2 linked regions of the Homo sapiens genome follow. The protein of the gene in region 1 interacts with the protein of each later gene in a pairwise test. Each region holds a gene or a part of one and is shown in the gene's direction. Other genes may lie near its edges.

Evidence for each region. Proteins that work in one complex are often made in the same cells at the same time.
Region 2: the proteins of COPZ2 (region 1) and COPG1 interact in a two-hybrid assay, tested with the Homo sapiens proteins (2 studies listed by BioGRID).

The regions. Positions count from the first base shown.
Region 1 is NC_000017.11:48,036,332-48,040,078, reverse strand, and holds the start of COPZ2 (coatomer subunit zeta-2), read left to right. Parts: upstream 1-2,281; 5' UTR 2,282-2,301; coding exon 2,302-2,412; intron 2,413-2,831; exon of another isoform or gene 2,832-2,918; intron 2,919-3,153; coding exon 3,154-3,228; intron 3,229-3,747. UniProt on the Homo sapiens protein: The coatomer is a cytosolic protein complex that binds to dilysine motifs and reversibly associates with Golgi non-clathrin-coated vesicles, which further mediate biosynthetic protein transport from the ER, via the Golgi up to the trans Golgi network.
Region 2 is NC_000003.12:129,259,485-129,263,231, forward strand, and holds part of COPG1 (coatomer subunit gamma-1), read left to right. Parts: intron 1-848; coding exon 849-916; intron 917-1,134; coding exon 1,135-1,323; intron 1,324-3,747. UniProt on the Homo sapiens protein: The coatomer is a cytosolic protein complex that binds to dilysine motifs and reversibly associates with Golgi non-clathrin-coated vesicles, which further mediate biosynthetic protein transport from the ER, via the Golgi up to the trans Golgi network.

The DNA.
Region 1 (3,747 bases):
GCGGTCTCGGGTCACTGCAACCTCCACCTCCCAGGTTCAAGTGATTCTCCTGCCTCAGCCTCCCGAGTAGCTGGGATTACAGGCACCTGCCACCACCCCCGGCTAATTTTTTTGTATTTTTAGTAGAGATGGGGTTTCACCATGTTGGCCAGGCTGGTCTCAAACTCCTGACCTCGTGATCCGCCTGTCTCGGCCTTCCAAAGAGCTGGAATTACAGGCGTGAGCCACCGTGCCCGGCCGACACTGGGAATTTGAGGCTGCGGTGAACTATGATCACACCACTGTACTCCAGCCTGGGTGATAGAGCAAGACCCTGTCTCAAAACAAAAAAACAAACAAACAAAAAGTCACATTCATTGGTTCTTGCAGGGCTCAAAGTCTGGGCGGGGAGAAGGAACACTTATAAACAAACTAGTAAAGGCTGGGAATGGTGGTTCACGCCTGTATCCCAACACTTTGGGAGGCTGAGGTGGGAGGATCACTTGAGCCTAGGCGTTCAAGACCAGCCTGGGCAACATAGTGAGACCTTGATCATGATCACCCTCCTCCCCCTCCTCCTCCTCTTCCTTTCTTTTTCTCTTCTTCTTCTTCTTCTTTTTTTTTTTTTTGAAACAGATTCTCACTCCCATTGCCCAGGCTGGAGCACAGTGGCATGATCATGGCTCTGCAGCCTTGAACCCCCAGACTCGGGTGATTCTCCCACCTCAGCCTTCTGAGTAGCTGGGACTACAGGTCACACCACCCTACCTGGCTAATTTCTTTGTAGTTTTAGTAGAGACTAGATCTTACCATGTTGCCCAGGCTGGTCTGGAACTCCTGGGCTCAAGCCTTCTGCCCACCTCAGCCTCCCAAAGTGCTGGGATTACAGATGTGAGCCATTGAGCCCAGACTTGAGACCTTGTTTCTACAAAAATAAAAAAAATAAAAAAATAAAAAATTACCTGGGAGTGGTTGCATGCACCAGTGGTCCCAGCTACTCGGGAGACTGAGATGGGAGGATTGCCTGAGCCCAGGAGGTTGAGGCTGCAGTGAGCCCAGATCGAGTCACTGCACTCCAGCCTGGGCAACAGAGTGAGACCGTGTCTCAAACAAGCAATATTAGTAAAAATAATATTTAGAGATTGAAAAAAGTGCAATGAAAGAAAGAAATAGGAACTGAGAGAATGTGACAGGAGAGACCTATCAAGTCAGATATGGTGGCTGTCAGGAGGACCTTTTGGTAATTATATTTCAGCAGAGGCTTGAAGATAAGAAGACTTGATGCATTCAGTGAGGAAAACCCCATTCTGTAACCATCTAGGGTAAGTGACTGTGGTCCACAACATAAGAGGGCTTGAAGAGAAGAATAGGGAAGAAATTTTGAGTCAAAAATCTGGGTTCTATCCCCAGTCAACTAGCTGTATAGTCTTGAAAAGGTCACACAACCTCTGAGTCTCTCTTTGCTTAAAATGAGGGTCCATTATGCCTATCTTACAGGTGTGGGCTATATTAGATAATGGATGTGAAGGTGTCAAATGTAAAATACACGCACAGTGTTTTTACCGGTAAATGCATACGTAGCACTAACATATCACTGGGATGTGAATTTCCCACTTGCCAGTGTACCCTGAAATGAGAGCTTGTCTTAGTTAGACTTAGACCAAAGAAACCAAAACATGCTGCAAAGCCCGATGTCATTGGTGGAGCATTTGTGCTGCTGGGCGTCTGTCTTGCTTCTGATGGTGCCATATCTGTGACTTAGGAGAGCCTGGGGAGGTGTCTCCGGGCCCATGGTTGCCTTCTGCAAGTAGTGAGAGAGGAATGAGAAAGCCTCTTCACAGAGGGGTGTCCCCAGAACTGTCCTCATTTGCTCTTGCTTATAGACCCTGTCCCTGAGATCTAAAGGGTGACCTGACGTATTTGTCCTCATGGTACCTACCAGAGGTCAACAGACAAAAGTGGGCTTTGCTTGTGTTTGCTGCTGGCCCCAGGACAGCCTATAGACACTGGCGCACACCAAAGCCACAGGCCGGAGAGCAGGCAGGAAGCAGGACGAGGGCTGGTCTTGGGGCACCCTGAGGATGCAGAGTTCGGGGATGTAAGGGACTCGGGAAGGAGCCAAGGAGGAGAGAGGGAGAGGAGAAGTGGGGGAAGGAGAGGTGGGGTGAGGGCGGGAGGGGAGATGGGGGAGAACGAGCAAGAGGACGGGGCCCCGAGGAAAGGGAGGCCACGCGCGAGAGGGGGCCGCGGGGCGGCGCGGAGGCGGGGCGGCGGCGGCGGGCAGGCGGCGGGCGGCGCTGTCAGTGCGAGGCGGCGAGCGGAATGCAGCGGCCCGAGGCCTGGCCACGTCCGCACCCGGGGGAGGGGGCCGCGGCGGCCCAGGCCGGGGGCCCGGCGCCGCCTGCTCGAGCCGGGGAGCCCTCGGGGCTGCGGGTACGGAGCGGGCGGGCGCGGGGATCCCGGGCGGCGGGAGCTGGGCAGGGACAGAGCAGGGTTAGGGGGAGCAGCCAACTCAGAACTCGCGCGCCCGGCGGCTGGGAACTTTGTGTCACCCCTGACTGGCCCCAGGACCCGGGAGGAAAAGTTCGTCCCAGCGCCGACCGGAGAGGAGGCCTGTCCTGAGTCCGTCGGCGCGGGGCTGAAGTTCTGGGTCCGTTTGGAGTGGGGGTGGCGGGTGAGTTGCGATTCCGCGGGGAGGGTAAGGAGTGGCCTGTCCGTCCCAGACTCGGCTCCCATCACCGGTGGGTGATGGGCATGCTTCTGGAGTCTACCCGGGCCAGGGCCTGGGGGCGCGCTGATAGCGCAGGTCCAGCCCGGCCAGGGATCAGCTGGAAGAAGGAGGCTCGGCCCGCTGTCCCCCCCGGCCCAGGTTCTGTGATACACTCCGACTCGGGCTCTGGAGCAGTCAGTGCATGACAGAACTTGGGCCCGGAAGGACCTTCTGCACCCAACGGGCACAGCGCCCACTCGGGGCCTGCAGTGGAACATCTGCCTGGGAGTGGAGTGGGCACCTGGGTTGGCCCATGTGGCACAGGGCTGGGCAGAACCAGCTGTGGACCTTGAGGACTGGGGTTGCTGGGGCCTGAGGATGTATCCTAGGGCCAGCAGATCCCATAGACACAGGGTGTCCACCTCGAGTCAGGGGCCAAACGGAACTCTCCTCTCCGGTGTCAGTTGCAGGAACCTTCCCTCTACACCATCAAGGCTGTTTTCATCCTAGATAATGACGGGCGCCGGCTGCTGGCCAAGGTAACCTCTGACCCCACCCATGAGGGACACAGTTCCCACTCAGCTGACACTCCTGTCTCAGGAGAAACTCCACTGTGATCTCTGTGACTCAGGGCAGCTCAGCTTAGACCCCTCCAGAGGTCCTTCTCATCCTCCTGCCTTGTCAAGGTGCTGCTCCCTGAAATGAGGGGTCTCCTCTATTTCTACTCATGTTCCCTGAAATGTTTCCTTATCATCCTGCTACTGGCCAGTTGGACCTGGGCATGGGAAGGTTCTGCCTAATGGGTCAGTGGAGTGTTGAGCCTGGGACCCAGGAGTCTTAGTCCCCAAACCCCCACACAAGTTCTTTTGTTCTTTGGGGTTTGTCTCTAAACCTCCACTTTTGTTCTACAGCTTGGTAAACACTAACGATTTAGTCTAAGGAGTCTAAGGATTTAGAACCAGATGGGATTTTAGAAACTGTATAATCCAACTCTTTAATTTCGTAGATGAAGAAAATGAGGGGTAGAGAAGCTAAGTGAGTTGCCTGAGGTCACAAGT
Region 2 (3,747 bases), on another chromosome or scaffold:
TGGAAAAAGAACTAATGAATTCAGTCACTGATTTGGGTATTCATTCATTCTTATTATATCCCCCATATTTCCAGAATAATGAAAGATGTAAATAAAGTAGGGTCTTCAAAATAAGCATTAAGAAAAATTTTTTTTGAGTATTAGAGAATAAAAGCCAAGTTATGAAGAAAGGAACATAGATATTCCAGAAAACAGTAGTCATCTTCGCTCCTATGATTGAGTGCCAAATTTAGCTCTGAGCTTCCGGGCAGCCAGGGCAAGGGAGGGATATGGTACCCGAATGGCTCTCATCTAGTTAAAGGAAATAAACCATTTGTTTAAGAGAGGACTTTGTTCTTCAGCACTTGGTGCCAAGGGGGAAGTTCTGTTGGATCCTGTAGACACAGTAGGAGAGAGGAGTGGAATATTACTTCACAGAGGTTAAGGGCTTAGGCTGCAGGTGCAGGCAGTCTTGGAATTTAATCTTGGTTCTGCCACTTACTGGCTGCCAACCTAAAGTTTGTTTGCTTTCCCCTTTGTGCCTCAGTCTCCTTATCTGTAAAGTGGGCTAGTGGTGGCTGCAAGCTATAGAAGTGAGGCATGTCCACTGTATAGCACAGCACCTGGCACACAGCAGATGCCCAGTGAATAACAGCCCTCACTGGAACCCCTGGGTGCTCACAGACATTATGGCCTCTGTCCATGGCTCAGGTGCGCAGGGTGAGGGGAGCTCTGTGTCTTGGGTTGGGATGGGGGTGTCAGCAGGGAAATGAGCTGAGCAGAGGGTTTGAGTCAGAACAGTAGCCCCCGGTTTTCCCAGCTGCCCAGCAGTGAAGGCAACCTGACATGTGGCATCCATCTCCCCACAGTGCTCCAGCTTTTCTGCAGCTCACCCAAGGCTGCTCTCCGCTATGCTGCTGTTCGTACCCTCAATAAGGTAAGAGTCCAGCTTGGGGGTTGGAGGAAGCTGTCTGATCCAACTGGAGGTGTGTCCTAGCCTCTGACCTGGCTGGGAAGGATAATAGCCCTGGTCACAGTTAGTTTCTTCTAGATGGTGAGATGATCTCATCCAAAGGACTTCTGACTGGGCCAAACCATCAAATGTAGTGACAGCATTGGGTTCCTGCCCTCTCTGTCACTGTCCTCCCAAAACAGGTTGCCATGAAGCATCCGTCAGCTGTGACAGCTTGTAATCTGGATCTGGAGAACCTGGTCACAGATTCAAACCGCAGCATTGCCACGCTGGCCATCACCACCCTCCTTAAGACGGGCAGCGAGAGCAGCATCGACCGCCTCATGAAGCAGATCTCCTCCTTCATGTCAGAAATCTCGGATGAATTCAAGGTACCTGCTACCCCCAGGACACCCACGGCCCCCAGAGGAAGGAGCTCTGTCCCTGCTCTCTGTGGCCACAGCCTTCCTGCCAGGACTGACCTGAGGGGCTGGTCAGCCTTGAGGACTCAGAGGAGGCCAGCAGTTTGCTCTGCAGAGACTTGGCCTTCCGAGAAATGTGCGTAGTCCTGCCTCCAGGCCTCCATCCATATCGTCCCCTTGTACTGAAAGAACAGTAGTTTCCAGGCCAGTTAAGGGTTCATTGATTTGTTGTCCAAGTATTTCTTGAGCACTTGCTGTCTGCTATGTAGAGTGACAAAAGGGGAACATAGCAGTGAACAAAGCAGGTGACTGCCCTCCTGGAGCTTCCTTTCTAGGGATGGGAGAGGAACAGTAAACAGGTAAAGAAAGGAGTAGACGAGATCATCTCAGGCATGGGTACTGCAGTCAAGAGTGTAGAAATACAGCAGGGATGATCCTAGGAAGAGCACAGTCTGGGAAGGCCCTTCTGGAGGGTGACATTTGAGCTCAAACCTGAATCAGTGCAAAGAACCAGGAGGAAAGGCAGGAGCAAGTCAAGGAGAGAGAAGGCCAGTGGGTGGAAGAGCTGTGGGGCCAGTGCAGGTGACAAAGTCAGAATAGACAGGGCTCAATCATGTAAGGCCCATGGTCAGGTAAAGAGTTTTAATTGCAAGGAAGACATTGGAAAGGTGTTCTTTTGGGGCAGGAGGAAGGATGTGAATATTTTTTGAGCTTATATTTTGAAATAATTCATAGGAAGTTACAAAGAAATATACTGAGAAGTCCTATGCACCCCTCCATCAACCCTCTCCTACAGTGCCAGCATCCTACACTAGCACAGGACAATGTCAACCAGGAAAGTGACACTGGCATGACCCATAGAGCTCATTCAGATTTCACCAGCTACACAGGCAACTCCTGTGTGTATATATGTGAAGTTCTATGCAAGATGTCATGTGGAGACTTTCAAAATTGCCACCACAGTGAAGACACTCAACTATCCATCTCCACAAGACTCTTGTTACCTCTTCATAGTCAGGCCCATTCCTACCTCTCTATTCCCTAACCCCTGGCAGCCATTAATTTGTTCTCAATTTCTGTAATTCTGTTATTTCACAATTGTTAATTGATAGAACAATGAAGTATGTCACCGGAGAGTTTTAATCAGAGCAAACAATAATATGAATAATATATTGTGGTAAATTCTATAGTGTGGATTATGCAAAGTAGGCAGCAGTCTACTCTGCCTGTGGGTTACAAGAATGCTTTGCAGGCTGAAATGACACAGTGAGATTTGCATATTAGATCCTTCTGGGTCTGGGCACGGTGGCTCATGCTTGTAGTCTCAGTGCTTTGGGAGGCCAAGGAGGGAGGATCACTTGAGGCCTGAATTTTGAGACCAGTCTGGGCAATGTAGCAAGACCTCATCTCTACAAATTTTTTTTTTTTTTTTTGAGTTGGAGTCTCGCTCTGTTGCTCAGGCTGGAGTGCAGTGGTGTGACCTCAGCTCACTGCAAGCTCCGCCTCCTGGGTTCACGCCATTCTTCTGCCTCAGCCTCCTGAGTAGCTGAGACTAGAGGCACCCGCCACCATGCCCAGCTAATTTTTTGTATTTTTTAGTAGAGACGGTGTTTCACCATGTTAGCCAGGATGGTCTCGATCTCCTGACCTCATGATCAACCCGCCTTGGCCTCCCAAAGTGCTGGGATTACAGACGTGAGCCACCGCACTCGGCCTACAGAAAATTTTTTTAAAAATTAGCCATGTGTGGTGATGCGCACCTGTAGTCCCAGCTACTCTGGAGGCTGAGGTGTGAGGATCACTTGAACCCAGGAGTTCGAGGCTGCAGTGAGCCATGATCATGCCACTGCACTCCAGCCTGGGTGACAGAGTGAGACCTTGTCTGAAAAAAAAAAAAATTGGCTGGGCGCGGTGGCTTATGCCTGTAATCACAGCACTTGGGAGGCTGAGGTCGGCAGATCACTTGAGATCAGCAGTTTGAGATCAGCCTGGCCAACATGGTGAAACCCTGTCTCTACTAAAAAAATTAAAAAATTAGCTGGTGTAGTGGCTCACACCTGTAGTCCCAGCCACTCCGGAGGCTGAGGTAGGAGAGTCGCTTGACCTGGCCTGGAGGTGGAGGTTGCAGTAAGCCGAGATCGTGCCACTGCACTCCAGACAGAGCGAGACTCCGTCTCAAAAAAAAAAAAAAAAAAAAAGAGTCCTTCTGGAGCAGAGTGGAGGGGTGACTGGGTAAAGAGACTGTTGGAGTAATTCAGAAGGAGAGGATGGTGCCTGAACCGGCGGGAGTAGGAGAGGTGGGACAGTGCAAGAGCTTTTTGAGGGATAATGCCTGTTGGCAGGGTTGGTGTGAGGGTTGAGGGGTGGATGTCAACAGAGATGATGCCATTTTCT